Linked DNA regions of Homo sapiens: all the other regions are linked to region 2. The links come from fine-mapping of genetic effects on gene expression. A gene starts in region 2. Each other region holds a variant in brackets. All regions are shown on one strand. Distances are from middle to middle.

Region 1 (7,153 bases), 180 kb before region 2:
TTTCTCTGGCTACATTTATCATTTCCTCATTATCACTGATTTTCAGCAATGCCATTATGAGGTATCATGGCGGTATGTATGTGTGTTAATCCAGTTATGGAGGCCAGGCACGGTGGCTCACACCTGTAATCTCAGCACTTTGGGAGGCTGAGGTGGGCAGATCGCTTGAGCTCAAGAGTTCGAGATCAACCTGGGCAACTGGCGAGAACCCATTTCTACTAAAAATACAAAAAAAAAAAAAAAAATAGCCAGGCGTGGTGGTGTGTGCCTGTAGTGCCAGCTACTCAGGAGGCTGAGGTGGGAGGATCACTTGAGCCTGGGAGATGGAGGCTGCAGTGAGCTGAGATCATGCCACTGCACTCCAGCCTGGGCAATAGAGCCAGACCTTGTCTCAACTATGGGTTTTTGAGTTTCCTGTATCTTCAGGTTTATAGTTTTCATCAAGTTTGGAAAATTTTAAAGCTATTTTTTAAAGTATTTTTTCTTCCTCTTATTTTCATTCTCCTGGGACTCTAAGTAGATGTATCATACCACTTGGTATTATAGCATCATTAATTAATCAGTGTTCCTTGCTCTCTTGTATTTTTTCTAATTTTTTTTTATTATGTTTGCTTTCTCTTGAATAGCTTCACTTGCCATGTCTTTAAATTCTCTGATCTTCTCTTCAAAAGTGTTTTAGAATTAAGCCCATCCAGTGAATTACTTCAGATATTGTATTTTTCATCTCTAAAAGTTCAACATAGTTCTACCATCTGCTTTCATTACATTAATGTTTTTCCTCAGATCTTGTGCATACTTACAATAGCTGTTTTACAGCCCTTTTCTATTAATTCCATTATGTGTCATTTCTGAGTCTTTTTTCTTTTATGCTTTTATTGTTTTTAATTGACACAATTATACATACTGATTTTTCCCCTCATATCTTGTGTCATTTTTTTTATTTCCTTAAGTTGGACTTCACATTTCTCTGGTGACTCCTTGATTAGCTTAATAATTGACCTTCTGAATTCTTTTTCTGGCAATTCAGGGATTTCGTCTTGGTTTGGATCCATTGCTGGTGAGCTAGTGTGATTTTTGGGGGGTGTTGACGAAACTTAATTTGTCACATTACAATTGTTTTTCTGTTTCCTTCTCATTTGGGTAGGCTATGTCAGAGGGAAAATCTGGGGCTCAAGGCTGCCATTCAGGTTCTTTTGTCCCATGAGGTGCTCCCTTGATGTAGTACTCTCCCCCTTTTCCTAGGGATGTGGCTTCCTGAGAGCCAAATTGTAGTAATTGTTATTTCTCTTCTGGATCTAGCCACTCAGCAGGGCTGCCAGGCTCTGGGCTGCTACTGGGGGGTGTCTGCACAGAGTCCTGTGATGTGAATCATCTTCAGGTCTGTCAGCCATGGATACCAGTACCTGCTTTTGTAGAGGTGGCAGATGAGTGAAATGGACTCTGAGTGTCTTTAGTTGTAGTTGTTTAATGCACTAGTTTTCTGCTGGTTGACCTCTTACCAGGAGGTGGTGCTATCTATCAAAAGAGCATCAGCTGTGGTAGTATGGAGGAGGATCAGCCAGTGGGCAGGGCCCTGGAACTCCCAAGAGAATATGACCTTTGTCTTTAGCTACCAGGTTGGGTAGGGAAGGACCATCAGGTAAGGGCAGGGTTAGGCGTGTCTGAGTTCAGACTCTCCTTGGGCGGGGCTTGCTGTGGTGGCTGTTGGGGATGGGGGTGTGGCTCCCAGGTCAATGGAGTTATGTTCCCAGGAGGATTATGGCTGTCTCTGCTGTGTCATGCAGGTTGTCAGGGAAGTGTGGGAAAGCTGGCAGTTACAGGCCTCACCCAGCTCCCATGTAATTGAAAAGGCTGATCTCACTCTCACCATGCCCCCCAACCAACAGCACCTAGTTGGTTTCCAGGCAGTGGGCAAGCAGGGCTGAGAACTTGCCCCAGGCTACCAGCCTCCTGGCTGAGGAAGCAAGCAGGGCTTTCACTCCTCCCCGCCTATCGGTCTGCACACTGGATTCACACCATCCCCAGAGTTCTGGCCAGGAGACTTTGTGTTTAGTTGGAATTGTTACAAAGTTCAGCTGGAGGTTTCTTTCTCCCTGTGGTCTTTTCCCTGTTCCTCTGGCGTACCTCCCCAAGGATCCCTGAGAGAAAAGTCAGAAATGGCTTTCGTGGGGACCCAGAGAGCCCACAGGGCTTTTCCCACTGCTTCCTCTACCCATGTAATTTGCTTGGCTTTCTAAATTGTCTCAGCTCCTGGTAAGTCAAATCCTTCTCCTATGACCTGAACCTTCAGGTTCCCCAGTGAGGGTATGTGTTCAGGGGCAGATGATCCCTCTTTCCCACTTTCACAGTTTGGGCACTCACAGTATTTGGGCTATCTCCTGGGTCCTGCAGGAGCAATCCACTTCCTTCAAAGGGTCTGTGGATTCGCTCATCTTTCCTGGTATATTCCTGCAGTAGTTCTTGGAGCAAGAGTTCACAATGTGTCTCCACCCAATGCTCTGTATGAGTGGGAGCTGTGATTTAGTCCTGCCTCCTATCCGTTTTTGTTTTGTTTTGTTTTGTTTTTTGGTGTCCAAAGTATTGATGGGAGTTGCTACCATCCTCATTCCTACCTCCTTATTGAAAGGAGAAGTTCCTCCTGGTTTTCAGCTAATCCTAGTTGGGGAATGGGGTGGTAGAGGCCCAATGTTTTCTTCTGTTTTCTAGGTGGCCATCTGTTTCTGTTCCCATCCAGATTTATGTTACTCCTCTGAGACACTTTGGAACTCTCCGTTTTATTTTTGTTTGTTGTTTTTAAAATGTTGTGTTTTCTTTTGAGACAGGATCTCACTGTTGTCCAGGCTGGAGTACAGTGGTGCAATCATAGCTCACTGTGATACACCTCAAACTCCTGGGCAATACTCCTATCTCAGCCTCCCTAGTAGCTAGGACTACAGGAATGCACCACCCACATCCAGCTAATTTTTAAGTAATTTTTTGTAGAGATGGAGTCTTGCTATGTTGCCTAGGCTGGTCTCAAACTCCTGGCTTCAAGGGATCCTTTCACTTCATCTTCCCAAAGTAGTGGGATTACAGACATGAGCCACCATGCCCAGATTAAATTGTAGTTTTCATCGTTTTGGTTGTCATTGTGAGAGAGACAAGTGCCAGAACTTCTAGTCTGCCATGTTTTCTGCTTTTTTTTTTTTTTTTTTTTGAGACGGAGTCTTGCTCTGTCTCCCAGGCTGGAGTGCAGTGGCGTGATCTCTGCTCACTGCAAACTCTGCCTCCCAGGTTCCTGCCATTCTCCTGCCTCAGCCTCCCGAGTAGCTGGGACTACAGGCGCCTGCCACTGTGCCCAGCTAATTTTTTTGTATTTTTTAGTAGAGACGGGGTTTCACCGTGTTAGCCAGGATGGTCTCGATCTCCTGACCTTGTGATCCACCCGCCTTGGCCTCCCAAAGTGCTGGGATTACAGGCGTGAGCCACTGCACCCGGCCCATGTTTTCTGTTTCTATTGACTGATATTTCTCTCGTATGAGTCACATTTTTCAGCTTCTGTTCCTGTCTGGTAATTTTTGATGGGGTGCTGACATTGTCCCAAGCAATTTCAAAGAACAGCAGGGAAAATTCCATTCAGCTTCAAGGCCTGAGAATAACCCTGTGATTCAAAGCTCTGCTCTCTGGGCTTGCAACTCCTGGCTCTGCACCCAGAGTTCTGCCTTCCCATAAACATTGCATATTTTTCTGTGTTCTATATCTATTATTTTCTCTACAACAATTTTTTACTTCATTTTTTGGCTCATTTAATTTCTATTCTCTCTGTTACATGTGTGCTTTCAGTCATATCTCTTCTCCCTTGGGCCATCTCTAATTTAGCCTTGATTTATGAGATAATTTTGCTGTTTTCATTCCTGAGTAAATGCAGGTCCTGTAAATGCAGCCTGGGCAAGAGTGAGACCC[T/C]GTCGATCAATTAGTAAGTTAGACTATTTTGAATTACTGCTTTCCTCTGTTTCATGAAATTATTGAGGGTGGTTTATATTTTTATGTTTGAGACTGTCTCACTCTATCACCCAGGCTGGAGTGCAGTGGCACAATCATGGCTCACTGCAGCCTTGGTCTCCTCAGGCTCAGGTAATCCTTTCATCTCAGCCTCCTGAGTAGCTGGGACTACAGGAACGTGACACCATGCATGACTAATTTTTCTATTTTTTTTTTCTTTTGTAGAAGGGGTTTCACCATGTTTCCCAGACTGGTCTTGAACTCCTGGACTCAAGCAATCCTCCCACTTTGACCTCTCAAAGTGCTGGGATTACAGACATGAGCCACCCCTCCTCCCCTGCTTTTTTTGAGACATGGTCTCACTTTGGACCCAGACTGAAGTAGTGGTATGATCACTACTCACTGCAGCCTCAACCTCCCCAGCTCAGACAATCCTCCTGCCTCAAGTAGCTGGGACCACAAGAATGTGCTACCATGCCCGGCTAATTTTTAAATTATTTGTAGAGATGGGGGTCTTCCTATGTTGCCCAGGCTGGTCTTGAACTCTTAGGCTCAAGCAATCCTCTTGCCTGGGCCTTCCAGTGCTGGGATTACAGGAACTGGCCACTGCACCTGGCCTAGCGTGTTTTTGTATGTTCAAAGAAACGTTTTGAGAGTAAATTTGTGTGGATTTTTTTTTCACATGTGGTATAAACTATTCACGTTACAATAGTAAACAATCTTATGGACAAGTGTAGGGGGGCTGTTTTTTTCATTCAGGAGCACAGTGCTTTATTTGTAAAATAAATCACGATTTCCTTTAAAAAAATCACACACCTTTATGGAGGATATTTTTGGATTCTTTGATATCTTGTTAAACGACACTTACCTTCATTTACTTCCTTCTCTCCCTTCACCAATAAGCCTCCAAAGGACATCAGTTCCTCTGAAGATGGCCTATTTCAGAACTAATTTCCCAAAATATTCACACCTAATCACATACAATTTCCAACTCTATTTTTCAGTAGCCAGTTATTTGTTCTATTTCACCATTCAGAATGAGACCCTCTCCTTCTAAACTCCAGTTCATATTGTGTCAGTACCAGTAGAATCCTGCACTCTTCTATGTACCCCTTTTCCAATCATTTTCTGCTACAGTGTGGGGTCTGGGAGACTCAGATATTTATTTCCTAAATTATATGTAATTTAAAGGTTGCTGTCTTCTCTGCCATCTAATATGCTTAGGTATGGTATCTGAGTGATTTGTTCTTTTTGTTCTTTAAAGGGATTTGTGAAACAGTTGAAATTTAGATGACTGTCATTACTGTATAAGAATCTTGGGCTTCTGACTATGAGGTACAGGGCCATGGTGAATGCTTATATAACTTATTAGGGGGATGTGTTGGGGTGAAGTCTAGCCCTCGCTTCATTTGCTGTTTCTTGTGGAACTGCATTATCAGAAGATATGCCTCATTTGTAGGGCTACATCCATGTAACTTCATCTACACATGAAGTTTTCTTTAATGTAAACTCCAGATGGGGCATTCCCCCCCGTCATAAAACTTCTCATTAGGAAAAAGCCCTATGAGATCTTAACATACACTGCAAGTATTGTAGCTTGCTTAGTTATCTTCATGTCTGAATGGCCATAGTAATCTGATGCATTTTCTGCAAAACACAGAATGAAACAACCCAAATACAGACAACCAGATCCTATTTTAAGGAATTATCTTTGCTTGTGTTCAGAATAAACTGAAAAAAAAAAAAAAAAGGTATGGCTTCAGAAAACAAATATGCTGCAATTTCAGAAATGATGCTAAGAGTAGATTCCAAAGGATTTTTAAAACTTATTTAACGTATGTCCAGGGATACACCATACTGGCTGAGTTCTGTTACACAGGTCATACCTGTACATTGCATAGAAAATTGATTGTCCATGAATAAAGCATTTTTTCCACTGTGGAGTGAAATGTGTTGTCACACCAATTGTTTCTATTAGTCATCTGTATTTGCAGTGGAAGAACTTAAAAGTGTTTTTGTTCCAAGGACCCCTGTGAAACAATGTGACACTCTCAGTGTTAGTTCCTTGAGTAATGGACCATATATGTGCAATGACAGCCAAGCAGAAAGAAAAAACATCTTGAAAAGCTCAAAAACAGATTCAGCTTTGAAAATAACTGGACTGAAATCTACACACATTTCTAGAATACTAACAGGCACATTCAAATAATCTATGATCAACTTTTTCCAGGTACTCCAATGCAGCAATCCCCAACCCTTTTGGCACCAGGGACTGGTTTCGTGGGAAGACAGTTATTCCATGGAGCCAGATGGTTTCAGGATGATTCAAGCGCATTACACGTATTGTGCAGTTTATTATTACATTGTAATATATGATGAAATAATTATACAACTCACCATGACATAAAATCAGTGGGAGTCTTGAGCTTGTTTTCCTACAACTGGATGGTCCCATCTGGGGGTGATGGGAGACAGTGACAGATCATCAGGCATCACTCTCATAATGAGCACACAACCTAGATCCCTTGCATGCGCAGTTCACAGTAGGGTTCCTGCTCCTATGAGAATCGAATGCCTCCACTGATCTGACAGGAGGCGGAGCTCAGGTGGTAATGCAAGCAATGGGGAGCAGCTATAAATACACATGAAGCTTTGCCCAACACTCACCTCCTGCTGTGCAACCCGGTACCAGTTGTCACCCATGGGCTGGGGACTCCTGCTCCAAAGGGTAACATTTTAACATTCAGCTTAAATAAATTTCACCAAAAATATCTCAACAATTCAAAGAGGAGTGTTCCTGACACCAGATCACTTTATTCAACAGAGCAGCTCCCAAAGTCATGAAGTACTACTTGGTTTAAAAATAAAGCTGTTTTTCCCACGTACACACATTCAACAAAACTATCTTTGGTATTACTTTACTGAGTGAGGTTTAAAGGAGTTTGGGAAAATATTACAGCCTTCTTCCTTTTCCCAATGCTAAAAGTTTTGTGTATTTTTTCCACATGCATTTCTTTGTTCATATATATTTTAAAAAGTCTAAACAATTAGGATATTGTATCTTTTGCTCTGTAATTTTTTTTCCTCATCAGCCTCTTCTCAGGCCAACATATACATATCTAACATTCTTTTTAGTGGTGAGAGAATATTCTATAATATTACATGTATGTAC
Region 2 (7,153 bases):
TCTTGAACACAGGAGGCGGAAGTTGCAGTGAGCTAAGATCGCGCCATTGCACTCCAGCCTGGGCAACGACAGCGAAACTCCGTCTCAAAAAAAAAAAACAACACAAAACAACTCAAGAAGTAAACAATAGATTCTGCCTTTTAACATGAGAGAAGAAAAAAGGGCGATTTCAAGAGAGAAAAATTTAAGGTGTATATAAGTGTCCAGGATAATGAGCGTAAGCAACTTAAAGAGTCAAGGATGAACAGGCTGCAAAGGAAAACCATGACTGTTAAATCCTTAAAATTCCATCAAAACTAAAGAGAGCTGAACTCTCTTTATACTTAAAAATTTATTTTTAGTTTATTTACTGAATGCTTCCAGAGACCTGGAAGAAATCTGCAGTAGGCTTGGTGGGAGATTAAATCCTACTCAATGGAAATGAACTTTAAAATTCAGCAGAACTGAGCAACAAGCTACATGATGGTACAGGATGACCATCTATCTAATCCTCCTCGGCACATTAACTGATCTCTCCTTAAAAACAATACACAGACATTCACCAAGGTTTTATAGAGGAATGCATCCAGGTATATAAATAGGCCATCATACTGCATATGCTTTGAAGTTCACACCACTGCTTACATAGATTGTGAATGCCTTCTTAGAAAAAATTCTTAGGGCTGGGCATGGTGGCTCACGCCTCTAATCCTAGCATTTTGGGAGGCTGAAGTGGGAGGATCACTTGAGCCCAGGAAGTCAAGACCAGCCTGGGCAACATAAGGAGACCCCTCTCTACAAAAAATAGAAAACTTAGCCAGCCGTGGTGATTAGAATCTGTAGTCCTAGCTCCTCAGGAGCCTAAGGTGGAAGGACGGCTTGTGCCGGGGAGGTCGAGGCTGCAGTGAGCTGTGATCCCGCCACTGCACTCCAGCCTAGGTGACAGAGGGAGACCTCATTTCAAAAGTTTTTAAAAAGCAAAAGTTCTTAGAATTTACACTGGAGAAAGCACTCATATAAATTTAGGAAATGACAGAGAATGCAACAATATTATCCTATAATTTCCCACTAGGAAAACCTTCTAAGGATGATGTTTACTTTCCTCTCAAGCAGCAAGAGCAGAGAGCAATGCCCAGGTGTAAGGAAACTATAGTTGCTCACTGGGACCCTCAGAGCTCACTCTTTTCCCAAGTATTCAGGCTGGGCAAACATTTAGAATTGGAATCCCGATAATTAAGATGTGTATGAGTCAATCTAAAGGGGAGGTACAGTCTCTATTTGAAAACAAAATGCTTCTTGGCACAATTCTAAAAGTACAATTCAGGCATTAAATGCCTCCACCATTTTAAATGCTGAGTATTATTTATTCTGACCAACAAAGACCACAGAAAAATTAAAAGCAGAGAAAAAGATTAGAAATTTAACACTCCTAAACCTGGGGCATTGGTTACGTTGTTTACTTTGTGTCACTTATACAAAATTAAGTTTTACTTTTATTTTTTTTAAAGAAAAAAGCCTACAGCACTTAGTATTCCCAGGCAGTGACAAGTTTTACTTTTAATCACAACTAAAGAGGTATCTACACAAATTGTAGCAAAAATCATTAGCATTATAAATTTATGTAGATAAAAGTATCATGTGCAATTACTGACTTATATTTTGAAATTGTTATTAAAAAAAAACCTATAGTTAAGGTAGAAAAATGCCACTATACTGACAAGTAGCCCGAAATTTGGTGCCCTCTTCTTGTCAATATGTGACCAATGAAAAGCAAGTTAAGCAACCTTAACCTGGGATTACCAGGTTATTGTAAAATATCCAAGAAATATTTTTAAAAATGAAAAGGCTTTTTTTTCTTTCCGAAGTTATTTCTCAGGGAATTAGAAAAGAAAATAAATGAAAAACACTGTTCTCAAGGCTAGTTGTTGATGGCAAACAATTGGTAATTGTTTTGAGACACCCACTTTTTAACTACAAAGATACTTGACCTTAACTTAGAATACAAAATGAAACCAATCTCCACTATTCCTAAATTTGACAATTTGAACCTATAGAATGGTATAAAAAAGCCCCCAACTCGTTACTCAACAAAGATTTTTGAACAAACGACTTTGGCAAAGCACCCTGGCCCAAGGCAGACAGACCAAAAACTTTAAAAATCCTACAAAATATTCTAACTTGAGTTCAGGCTCCATACAGTACCTCACTGACCGACATGGTTTTGCTTCCTTAGTTCTCAAGGGCCAGGTCTGCTGGGTTCTGGGTGGTAAGGACCCCCCTGGGGAGACAAGACCTCGCGCCTCTGCCCGTCGTTCTGGGCCAAGCTCGGCCCAGAATGACGGGCAAAGGCCGGGCCACGGGCGACGCGAGGGCCTCCCTCACTCACCGTGAAGCGCTGGTCGCCAATGCTGCCCACGGAGAAGCAGTGGTCGCCAGGGTTCACAGCCCCGGTCAGCACCTGGTGCAGGTTCATGTCGGCGCCCTAGTCCTGCAACGGACACCGCATCCAGCTCATGCCACGGGTCAGCGGCTGCTTCCCTCCCTCCTTCCCTCAGGGGCGGCGGCCGCTCTTCGGTGGCGACGGCAGAAGCAGCGACAGGCGCCTGGAGCCGGAGCCGCTCAGCTGGGGCCCGCGACTCATCCCGAGCCCCGGAGGGCGAGGCCCGGAGGGGGCGGGTCGGCGAGAGGGCGGAGCGCCGCGCTCCTTCGCGCACCTGTCACTCCCCGCGCTAGCCCAGGTGAAGCTCAGGGTCCCCTCACCGGCCACGACCCGGGGCCGACTCACCGGCCAGGAAGGCCGCGCTGTCCACACACTTCCTCTGGACCTCGGGCAGCCGCTCCTGACCCAGCCCGAGTGGCGCAAGCAGTACGCGCTCGCACTCCCCGCCTGACCTGTCCCTTCCCGGCTCCGGTGCCCGCCACCCCCACAGTCCTCCGCCACTCACTACGCGCCTCTGGATCCCTGCGGCCGAAATATCGCGAGACTTCGCTCGGGGCAGCTGCTACTGTGGTAAAGAATTCACTTTTTTACCACAGCGTGCGTATCAGCAAGTGAACATAAAAACGCCTCTTCTAGTCAGAAACTGGCCAATCCCGACCCCCGGTCCACCTAGGGCTCCGCCCACCACCGAGAATAAGCCAATCTCTTTGAGGCTTCTACAGGAGAACGCCGTGCGTTTGAGCTTGAACCTGATAAGCCTGGCAGAAGCCTGATGAACCCAGAATGAGTGAGATGTGGTAAGTTGTGCTTTAGGTTAGGGCGTCATCTAACTGTTGGGCCAGAAAATTTAAAGGGGAGAAGTGCATCCTAAAGGGAGTTGCAGTTTCCTCGGTTCTGGTAGGACTACAAGTCCCAATATGCACCGCTCCCCCGGGCGACCTGAGTGTCTCTTGAGTAAATGTGACCCTTGAAACGTCTACGTTAGCAGCTTAATGGTTTCTCCAGCCTTGCGCGTGTTTCCAAGTCCCTAAACGGGATGGTTTTTGAAAGGCTCGAACACTTGACAAGTAGGAAAGTGGTATTTTCTTAGCCTAAGTTATCTTAACACGTGATTTGAAATAGTGCTGGTAATAACAACACACCAGCCCTGCATTGAGCGTTTGTTTTGGAAAAGAACCTAGGAATTCCAGAATGATCAGAGTCACAGCTACAAACTGAGATTCAACTCTCATTGTATTTTGACACAAGTTTTGTATTATAATTGACAAACATCTGTTTATATGTCTCCCCCTGTATACCGTAAGCCTCTTTGGAATACAGAGGAACAGGACACAAGTCTGTCCTTAATGTCTAGCACCGCACCAGTCCCACCCATTCAGGGTGTTCTGTAAATGTTGCATGAATGTGTATAGAAACTCTCCAAATAGGCCAGGCACGGTGACTCACGCCTATTATTCCAGAACTTTGGGAGGCCGAGGAGGGTGAATCACGAGGTCAGGAGTTCGAGACCAGCCTGGCCAACATAGTGAAACCCCCTTCTCTACTAAAAATACAAAAATTAGCCGGGCGTGGTGGCTCCCACCTGTAATCCCAGCTACTCGGGAGGTTGAGGCAGGAGAATCACTTGAACCCGGGAGGCAGAGGTTGTAGTGAGCCAAGACCCCCGTTGCACTCCAGCCTGGGTGACAGAGTGAGATCCCGTCTCAAAACAAACAACCCTCAAAACTCTCCAATAGGCCAGGCACGATGGCTCACGCCTGTAATCCCAGCACTTTGGTAAGTCGAGGTGGGGGCGGGGGGATCACCTGAGGTTGGGAGTTCGAGACCAGCCTGGCTAACATTGTGAAACCCAGTTTCTACTAAAAATTAAAAAATTAGCCTGGCATGGTGGCACGCGCCTGTAATCCCAGCTACTGGGAAGCTGAGGCGAGAGAATCGCTTGAACCTGGGAGACGGAGGTTGCAGTGAGCCAAGATCGTGTCATTGCACTCCAGCTTGGGCAACAAGAGAGAAAGTCAAAAAAAAAAAAAAAAAAGAGAGAAAAGAAAATAAAGAAACTCCCCCTTTTGTTGTAGTATGAAGACTTCAAACTATAATAATACTAGGGTGGGACGAGTACTAGTAAATTTATTTCCTTTTATTTTTACTACATTTTTTGCAATGTACATTTACTTTGTCTGACAATAAAAAGCTACTTACGAGATACTTTTTAGTTCATAAGTGGGATGATTGTGTGTTCACACTTGTGTGAGACGTCCCTCCCTCAAACCTTGTTGCGCCATCATCTGCACATTACCCATCTGATGTGGGGAAAAAAAAAAAACCCGAAACTTATTTAAAAAATGAATTTCATTATGTATTCCAGGCTTTTCATAAGATAAGGGACAAAACTTAATTTGTCTTTTTTTAAAATATACTTATTTTTTGAGGTCTAACATACCTACAGTTTGTCTTTTATTATTTCAAATTATACTTCAAGTGCTTTTTAATTTTATATTTTAGACCCAGAACCAGGATTGTTGTACTTGTGTGGCTCCCACATAAATTCTGTGGCTGGTTCATAATTTAACATGTTTACTCATTCTATTTTGCCCATTTGTTAGTTTTGAAGAGCATTCCACGTATTAGAATAAAACTGAGCAACAAGATGCGGGGCGCGGTGGCTCACGCCTGTAATCCCAGCACTTTGGGAGGCCAAGGCGGGCAGATCATGAGGTCAGGAGATCAAGACCGTCCTGGCTAACACAGTGAAACCCCGTCTCTACAGAAAATACAGAAAAAAAAATTAGCCAGGCGTGGTGGCGGGCACCTATAGTCCCAGCTATTTAGGAGGCTGAGGCAGGAGAATGGCGTGAACCCGGGAGGCGGAGCTTGCAGTGAGCAGAGCTTGCGCCACTGCACTCCAGCCTGGGCGACAGAGCAAGACTCCATCCCAAAAACAAAACAAAACAAAACAAAAAACAACAAACAAACAAAATTCCCTTTGCCTCCAAGATGCTGCCCCTCACAGATCATCTCCTAATGTCATAAAATTCCCCTACTAAGGTTCTGTCGAATCCTAAATCTATTCCTGATTTATTGTGCAACTTTGACATGACTCTGACCTTATGGGAAGATTAATAAGAAGGTGGAGGAGGTGAAAGTAAATTTTAGGTTGTTTGCCCCTCATCCTCCTGTTCCTGTTTCCTTACTGCGGGTCTAGAAGGCAGCACTGCATGCCTCCATTCCACTTGCTCAAAGTCTCCACATTCCTTCTACCAAAGGCTCACAAATCAACCTGCTAATCCAAGAAATCCAGGAGAAGGGCCTGGTGCAGTGGTTAACACCTGCAATCCCAGCGCTTTGGGAGGCTGAGGCAGGAAGATCCCTGAACTCAGGAGTTCCAGGTTGCAGTGAACTATGATCACGCCACTGTACTCTAACCTGGGCGATAGACCTTGTCTTAAAAAAAAAAAAAAAATCCCGGAGAATTATTGAGTCTAATTATCCCCTCAACTATAATTGAATTATATCCTTCCATCCTTTGAATGCTCACTGACTGTGTGCTTTGGTGGTTTTCTTTTTTAGTTTCTAAAAAAAAATAAGAGAGAAAGGATGGCTCTACAAAAAAAAAAAAAAAAAAGTCTTGCTGTATGCAGCGCCAGTAGTCCCAGTTACCCAAGAGGCTAAGGCAGGAGAATCGTTGAGAGTCCAGGAGTTCAAGTCCAGTCTAGGTAAAATAGATCACGTCTCTTAAAAACCAAATAAAAAATTAAAAATAAAATAAAGGAAGTCTTTTATTGTATAGTTTGCATTATTACTAGCAGCAAGATGTCTTACATAACCGACGTGCCATGTGGTTTCTGAGATTGGCAGGCCAAAGATAAGTTTTGGTTTTCAATGCTAGTCTTCAAGAGGAGGGGGAATTTTTTTTTTTTTTTTTGGGACAGAGTCTTGCTCTGTCACCCAGGCTGGAGAGCAGTGGCGCGATCTCAAGAAGAGGGGGAATTTTATAAGAGTCAGTGGGTGGTGATAGTTTAAAGAAACCCAAGCAGGCCAAATTCTGAGATTCTTGGAAAGAAAAGGAGCATATAGGAAGCTAGCTCAGATTGGGAAATAATCATGCCTCTTGCCCACTCTTGATTTCTTGAAATCCTTGTCATTACCCTCCTCCCCCACCCCAAATAGACCAATCTAAATCCCTATTCTTGGCCGGGGGCAGTGGCTCACATCTGTAATCCCAGCACTTTGGGAGGCCCAGGCGGGCGGATCACCTGAGGTCCAGCGACCAACATGGCAAAACCCTGTCTTACTAAAAAATACAAAAATTAGGGCTGGGGGCGGTGGCTCATGCCTGTAATCCCAGCACTTTGGGAGGCCGAGGCAGATGGATCATGAGGTCAGGAGTTTGAGACCAGCCCGGCCAACGCAGTAAAACCCTGTCTCTACTAAAAATACAACAAATTAGACAGGAGTGCTGGCAGGTGCCTGTAATTCCAGCTACTCTGGAGGCTGAGGCAGGAGAATCGCTTGAAGCTGTGAGGTGGAGGTTACAGTGAGCCAAGATCATGCCATTGCACTCCAGCCTGGGTAACAAGAGTGAAACTCCGTCTCATGAACAAACAAACAAACAAAAAATTATCAGGGTGTGGTGGCACGTGCCTGTAGTCCCAGCTACTTGGGAGGCTAAGTCAGGAGAATCGCTTGAACCTGGGAGGCGGAGGTTGCAGTGAGCCGAGATCACTCCACTGCACT
Region 3 (7,153 bases), 28 kb before region 2:
ATACTAGCAATAAAGTAGTGCCAAACTTTAGGTTACTGACTCTTGAAATATTATAAAATTAAAAATGTCAGAAATAAAATAATAAAGCATTTCAACAATTCATTGGCACAATTTATTTTAGTTCTATTCCAATGAAAAATTTAAATATATTTTTAACATCAAAATGGAATTTAACATGTAGGTTCAATTACAGTATATAAGTAATACCGATTTACTCAATGATCACTCTGATTTTACACTCTTTCAATACTTAAAACATTTCAATTCCTAAAAGAAGAAATCATAAATTACTGACCAAATTTTTCTTTTGTTTTGGTAGGTTAACTGGTTCAAAAATGGAGATAACATTTCCATAAGACGCTGCAATCTTTTAAAAAGAAAAAAAGAATTTATTAGGGATATGTTAACTTACTTATGAATCAAAAAAAGCAAAGAAATGAATACTATAACTTTAAATATGCCAATACACACAATTTCATTCACTGATGCTTAAGAATGTCAGTTTTGAAGACTATCACATCTGCATTAGAATCCTAGAACTGCAACTTACTACGTTAACTAGCAACTTAATCTCTCCAAACGTTAGTTTCCATTACAGTGTTCATAATATGTACAACACTACCTTCCTAACAGCATTGAGGGTTGAAATAACATTTGTAAAACACCTAACATATAATAAGTGACATACAATATGCACAGTAAATGTTAATTGTCGTCATCCATCCTCTAAATTGACAATTCTGTCAGTGTACATTAACTTTTCAAAAATATAACTTAGGTCTATTCCTCTGGAAACTCCCTGAGTACATTTTAAAACATATTCTATTTTATCCTTTGAATTTACTCTTTAAATTGATGGATCATAACCTTTCCTGGCTCTGTTTTATAAGGTAACTACTACTATAACTTGAGTGAGTCTCATATAAAGAACATCAAAATATTGGAAATCAAACAGAGAGAGAGATTAAATGAATGAATCAGGGATAGAAAAAAAAACATATGATGTAGTAAAGAGAAGGTAAGAAATGAGGACACAACAAACATGGAGAAAAAACTGTGAATGGATATTTTAAGGCTTCTGAATTCTTAGGATATAGATATCACTTGTGCTGCATTGATCTGGAGGAAGTGTTTAGTTTGGGCCTTTAATTATGGGTGGGATTTCAAAAAGCAGTGAGTATTCAACTTTATAAATAGGGCATAGTATGAAAACAGGTGTAAGGCCGGCCGCGGTGGCTCACGCCTGTAATCCCAGCACTTTGGGAGGCCGAGGCGGGAGGATCATGAGGTCAGGAGATCGAGTCCATCCTGGCTAACACGGTGAAACCCCGTCTTTACTAAAAAATACAAAAAAAAATTAGCCGGGCGATGGCAGGCGCCTGTAGTCCCAGCTACTCGGGAGGCTGAGGCAGGAGAATGGCGTGAACCCGGGAGGCGGAGCTTGCAGTGAGCCGAGTTCACGCCACTGCACTCCAGCCTGGGCGACAAAGTGAGACTCCGTCTCAAAAAAAAAAAAAAAAAAAAAAAAAAAGAAAACAGATGTAAAGATTAAAAGAGGCAATGTATGTTTAGAGGTGAATGACCACCATCCCACCAAGAAGAGAGTGCTCCTTATAACACAATAGTGTACCTGAGACTAAAAAGGCAGATCTGAGCCAGGTTGTAAAAGGCCTCACACCAAGGTGAACAATTTGAACTTTTCCAAGGTAATGGGCTAAGAATACTTTGAAGCTGATGAATAAAAGGATAAATGAGGATTAATTTTCTCAGAAAAATGAATTAGGTGGTAGTACAGTACAAAGAAAAAAACAGTAATAATAAAAATACAGGTGCCTATGACATTTCCTTCTTTTTTTTTTTTTTTATGAGACGGAGTCTCACACTGTTACCCAGGTTGAAATGCAGTGGCACGATCTCAGCTCACTGCAACCTCTGCCTCCCGGGTTCAAGCGATTCTCCTGCCTCAGCCTCCTGAGTAGCTGGGATTACAGACGCCCGCCACCACGCCCAGCTAATGTTTTTTTTTTTATTTTGTAGTAGAGACGGGGTTTCTCTATTTTGGCCAGAATGGTCTTGAACTCCTGACCTCATGATCCACCTGCCTCGGCTTCCCAAAGAACATTTCCTTCTTAAATGTAAACAGTCAGAAGTCCCCAGGTACCAGAACCTGCCAATTTTCTTCCTGATACTTTAAGGAACCACTATGATAATACTGATATCTGTAAATGAAGAAAATATTTCTTCATTAAATGATTATAAAACCAAATGACTTCTTAATTCCTCTTTTTGTTTTTCTTTGTAGAGATGGGGTCTTGCTTTGTCACCCAGGCTGCAGTGCAGTGGTGCCACCAGAGCTGACTGCAGCCTGGAACTCCTGGGCTCAAGTGATTCTCCCGCCTCAGCTTCCCGGGTAGCTAGGACTACAGGAGCATACTACCATGTCCGGCTATTTACTTATTATTTTTATTTTTGTAGAGACAGGGTTGCCCCAAGCTGGTCTCAAACTTCTGGTCTCAAGCGATTTGCCCACCTTGACCCTCCTAAAGCTCTGGGATTACAGGCATGAGCCACCACACATGGCCATGATTTCTTCATTCTAACCTGGACTGTCATATAGTCTATCACAAAAAGATAGCTCATATTGGAAAGTATTAAATTATATTTTTAACATTAACCAGCTCCATGTGAGTCCAGATGGTATTAAGCAAGTTTTTATACAGTTAAGAAAGATTACAGAACAAAAGAGCTAGAAGATCAAACAAACATGAAGAGAATGAAAATAAAAATCTCAAGGATAGGCTGGGCGCAGTGGCTCACGTAATCCCAGCACTTTGGGAGGCCAAGGAGGGCAAATCGCTAGGTCAGGAGATTGAAAC[C/T]AGACTTACCAACATGATGAAACCCCGTTTCTACTAAAAATACAAAAATTAGCCGGGTATGATGGCGAGCACCTGTAATTCCAGCTATTTGGGAGGCTGAGGCAGGAGAATTGCTTGAACCCGGAAGCCAGAGGCTGCAGTGAGCTGAGATTGCACCACTGCACTCCAGCCTGGGCAACAAAGCGAGACTCCATCTGAAAAACAAAAAACAAAACAAACAAACAAAAACAAACAAAAAACAAAAAAAAAACCCAAAGATTTCCAGCATTCCATAATAAAGATCATTTTTGTTGTACAGCGAGAAGTCATAAGAGGCCTCAACAAAAGATAGAGGACACCTGTAACTATATTAAAGGGAAGGAATACCATGTAACAAAAAGAACAGTAGTCCAACAAATATGTAAAGATTCAGAAAACAGAAACTCGTTTTATAATTAATATCTTTAAGTCCCAGATGGCAACTTTTAATCCTAGAAAGTTTACCTCAAATGAAGATTAGATTTAAAAACAAATGATTGGGTCCATGGACTCTTAATATGACCATTTTGATTCCTTACACAAAATGTTCTAGTGGAATCATATGAGTGTATTTGCGAAGTTCAGTCCAGTCTAGCTACAACTATATATAGGCCTTACCACCTATGCCTATATGGAGTTATTTTAAGCTATATATTATGCTGCCTTGCCTAGTAGTATGACTTTCTCATTCTGGTACTACAGGAACTGTATTTAACCTGATCTAGAAGAATTTTATACTTTGTTACTTTTGTTTATGTTGTTGCTATTTTACTTTCAAGGTTACCTTTCTACTTTTCATATGCAAATAGAAGTCCAGATAAAGTTTTTCACTTTTCTTATGGGCTTAGAATATTATAAACTCTCAAAGAGTTTTTCATTTCCACAAAAAGTTACACAGCCCTTGTTACATAGAAGTTACAAGGAGATAACTACCTGTTCACAGACAAAAAAAAAAAAATATTCTAAATCATTTCCTTTAGTTTATTTGTAAATATTGAAGATTCATTGTTACTCCTTTCCCCCAGTCCAATCACCTTTTAAATACGTAAGCTTTAGACTCATTCTATATCAGTAAGTATTGTATTTCTTTCTCAGAGAAGATGATGCTATAATTTAAAATTATATAAGAAGAGAATTTCTGGCACTCTATAGAATGCATCTTAGACAGCCAAAAATTCTTCTAGCTACACTATCTTTGAAACAAAGCCAAGTCTCTAATTCAATAGGAAATACACACTTCAGAGATTATCCTGACAAAAACCATATTCCAAACAAATTTGTATATTAGAAGAAGATTACAAACCTTGCCTTGTTGCATTGAACAGTCTACACATCCCACTTGAATATTTCCATGTTTAGCTCCTGGGATTATCTGTAATCTTTCAAAATCGCTTCCCAGTATTACAATGTCACATCCAGATGCATAAGCCTAAAAAAATAAATAAATAAAAATGATAAAAGTGTCAAGGAAACATTTACCATGTAGAATACTAGTATTAACTATCATGTTTTAAGGCAGGGAGAATAAATGTTTTAAAAGACCAATTTTAGGTGTTTTCTTAAAAAAAAAATCTACATTTGGCACTATTTCCCTTACCTCCCCATATACAGCCTATTAGCAAATTCTGTCAGTCCTTTCTGCAAAATATGCATCAACTCTGAACTCTGTCCACTTTTTTATTTTTTCTTTTGAGATGGAGTCTCACTCTGTCGCCCAGGCTGGAGTGCAGTGGCGCAATCTCGGCTCACTCCAAGTTCCGCCTCCCAGGTTCACGCCATTCTCCTGCCTCAATTTCCTGAGTAGCTGAGACTACAGGTGCCCACCACCACGCCCGGCTAGTTTTTTGTATTTTTAGTAGAGATGGGGTTTCACCGTGTTAGCCAGGATGGTCTTGATCTCCTGACCTCGTGATCCACCCGTCTCGGCCTCCCAAAGTGCTGGGATTACAGGCGTGAGCCACTGCGCCCGGCTCACTTTTTTCATCTCCAGTGAATGCTACCACCCTTGTCTAAACTGAACCATGATCATCTCTCTCCTATTCTACTAATAGCAAACTTCCATTCTTGCCTCCCTCTAATGCATTTCCACAAAGAGTGATATTTGAAGAATGTTTACTGCACCAAGTTATTTTCCCTGCTTAAACCCCTCAACAGTTTTCCACTGCACTTGGAATAAAATCTCAACACCTTACCATGGTCAATATCCTAAATGGTGGTCCTTCTATAAACCCATCTCAGGCTATTCTTTCCTTCTCTCAGCTGGCTCTTGTTTCTGTTCCTTTTTACATCTCAAGGTGTTTATCTGCCTTTTATCTGCCTGGTCTTTTCTAGTTAGCTGCTTTCCAGCATTCAGGCTACAATTCCCAACCACTATCTCTCCCATTACTTTCTATCACATTACTGTTTATTTTCTTCACGGCATATATCACAATTTTTAAATGTCTTTTGTCCCTATCTATTATTAAAAGTTAAATTCCAAAAAGGAAGGATTCAAGTTTATCTTGTTCTCTACTCTAGTCCTCAATTCTAACACAAGGGCCTAGAATGCAGCTAATAATTTATAAGTGGAATAAATGAAGCATTTAATTTCACAAAAACAGTCATCACAACAAAAGAAAGTATACATAGCTCAAGACTTGTTGCCAAGCATTTCATAGCTCTTTTTCAATTTTACAACAGTTAGCATAACTCTCCCAACTAGAACTCTTCTTTTGTGTGTCCTTTTCCCTACCACCTTCTTTGATCACGGGAGTTTTTTCCATTACAGGGTACATGGTTGTTCTCCTAGGATTCATATTATAGACTGGCACACGTTACAACAATAAGACATCTAACACAAACTGTTTTCCAACCTGAGTTCATAAAGTTTTTATCAACTCTCTACTTGCTCCTCATTTTTGCACACGCACATATATTTAAAAATTATACTTCAGGCTGGGCATGGTGGCTCATGCCTGTAATCCCAGCACTTTGGCAGGCTGAGGCAGGCGGATCACCTGAGGTCTGGAGTTCAAGACCAGCCTGACCTACATGCAGAAACCCCGTCTCTACTAAAAATACAAAATTAGCCGGGCATGGTCGTGCATGCCTGTAATCTCAGCTACTTGGGAGGCTGAGGCAGGAGAATCGCTTGAACCCGGGAGGTGGAGATTGCAGCAAGCTGAGATCGCGCCACTGCACTCCAGCCTAGGCAACAAGAGCAAAACTCCATCTCAAAAAAAAAAAAAAAATTATACTTCATATACACCTTAATTCCTACCAAAACCAAAATTATTCTGTATACTCTATCAAAAAATATTAAAAATGGGACTTGAGAGAACATACAAATGAATGTGCTATATGGAAAAGAAAATCAAGGCCCAAATAAGTTGATAACATCTTAGTGGCAGAGTGGGGCTTCAGAACCTGATCTCTTGATTTTTGGTCTCCTGCTATTTCCATGGTACCAACAGGGGCTTCCCTAGTTAACATGCTTGCCTGGAATTTTACCTAAAAATTAGAAAGAATAATCAATTATGATTCCACTAGTTTCACAAAGTGAAAAGAACTGGCTCAAACAAACAAAAAAATCACATGATGATCTCCTCTCCTATATAAATATCCATGATGGGATCATAAGGCTTGTCATAAGACCATTAGCAAGAATAAATTCCAAAGGCTAATTTTAAGAGAAGTTGTCTTTCAAATAATTTAGAAACTAATTTTTCTCCTTGATATTAAATTTTGAGAATACTGATTGTCACTGTTTCTCAAAATATTGTGTTGAATTTTACATGTTTACAATTTAGATTTGCTCCCTTCTAAACAACATTTTCAGTTTCCTTTCAGTGGAATAAAAAAACTCATGTCTTCACAACTTCACCTTTGTTGTACCTGAAATTATCTACCTAATTTCAGATATTACGTTGCAAGTATTTTGTCAAACATGACCCAAAATTTTCCCACATCAAGTCTATACTAATTTTGAAGCCCACACAAATTACTACTTAATACAAATATTACACTTGCAGAGTTGAGAAATGTAAAGTAATCCCAGAAATAAACACTTAGTACTATACAGAGGAAAATACCAACTAATAACAATTACCACTTCATCATTCAATGACTTATCTAGTTCTGAATTACCCTTGTTCTTTTGCTGCTGCTGCATCATACTACTACTATTTGACTTTTTCTCAGCGATGGTACTAGAAGTTAACAAAGCTGTCTCCGTAGTCTTGGTAAATTTTAAATCAAATAAAATTATTGAACTTGGCTGA

Direction of the effects. Alleles are on the strand shown, and positions count from the first base shown. SD is a standard deviation of normalised expression in the study named. Not every link is listed here.
As copies of C replace T in region 3, the expression in tibial nerve of the gene that starts at base 2,935 in region 2 goes down (moderate effect, 0.46 SD a copy in GTEx).

Evidence for each region.
Region 1: its variant is fine-mapped to the expression of DMXL1 in whole blood (INTERVAL, PIP above 0.99). The same link has a PIP of 0.9 or more in blood mononuclear cells.
Region 3: its variant is fine-mapped to the expression of DMXL1 in tibial nerve (GTEx, PIP above 0.99). The same link has a PIP of 0.9 or more in aorta.

The regions. Positions count from the first base shown.
Region 1 is chr5:119,250,580-119,257,732 of GRCh38, reverse strand. No RefSeq gene overlaps it. Among named protein-coding and RNA genes, the nearest start is that of MIR5706, 100 kb to the right of the region's middle. RefSeq lists an enhancer at 1,425-1,981. The variant T/C (reference allele first, on the strand shown) is at 3,943.
Region 2 is chr5:119,066,869-119,074,021 of GRCh38, reverse strand. DMXL1 (Dmx like 1) reads right to left here and starts at 2,935. Exons shown (of 44, transcript NM_001290321.3): 1 at 2,366-2,935. The coding sequence starts at 2,452. DMXL1-DT (DMXL1 divergent transcript) reads left to right here and starts at 3,132. Exons shown (of 3, transcript NR_134250.1): 1 at 3,132-3,216. It overlaps LOC124901209 (small nucleolar RNA U13), which reads left to right and starts at 4,622; the gene lies at 4,622-4,725. RefSeq lists silencers at 2,499-2,778, 3,089-3,168.
Region 3 is chr5:119,095,149-119,102,301 of GRCh38, reverse strand. DMXL1 (Dmx like 1) reads right to left here. Exons shown (of 44, transcript NM_001290321.3): 2 at 4,198-4,323; 3 at 296-367. Among named protein-coding and RNA genes, the nearest start is that of DMXL1, 28 kb to the right of the region's middle. The variant C/T (reference allele first, on the strand shown) is at 2,877.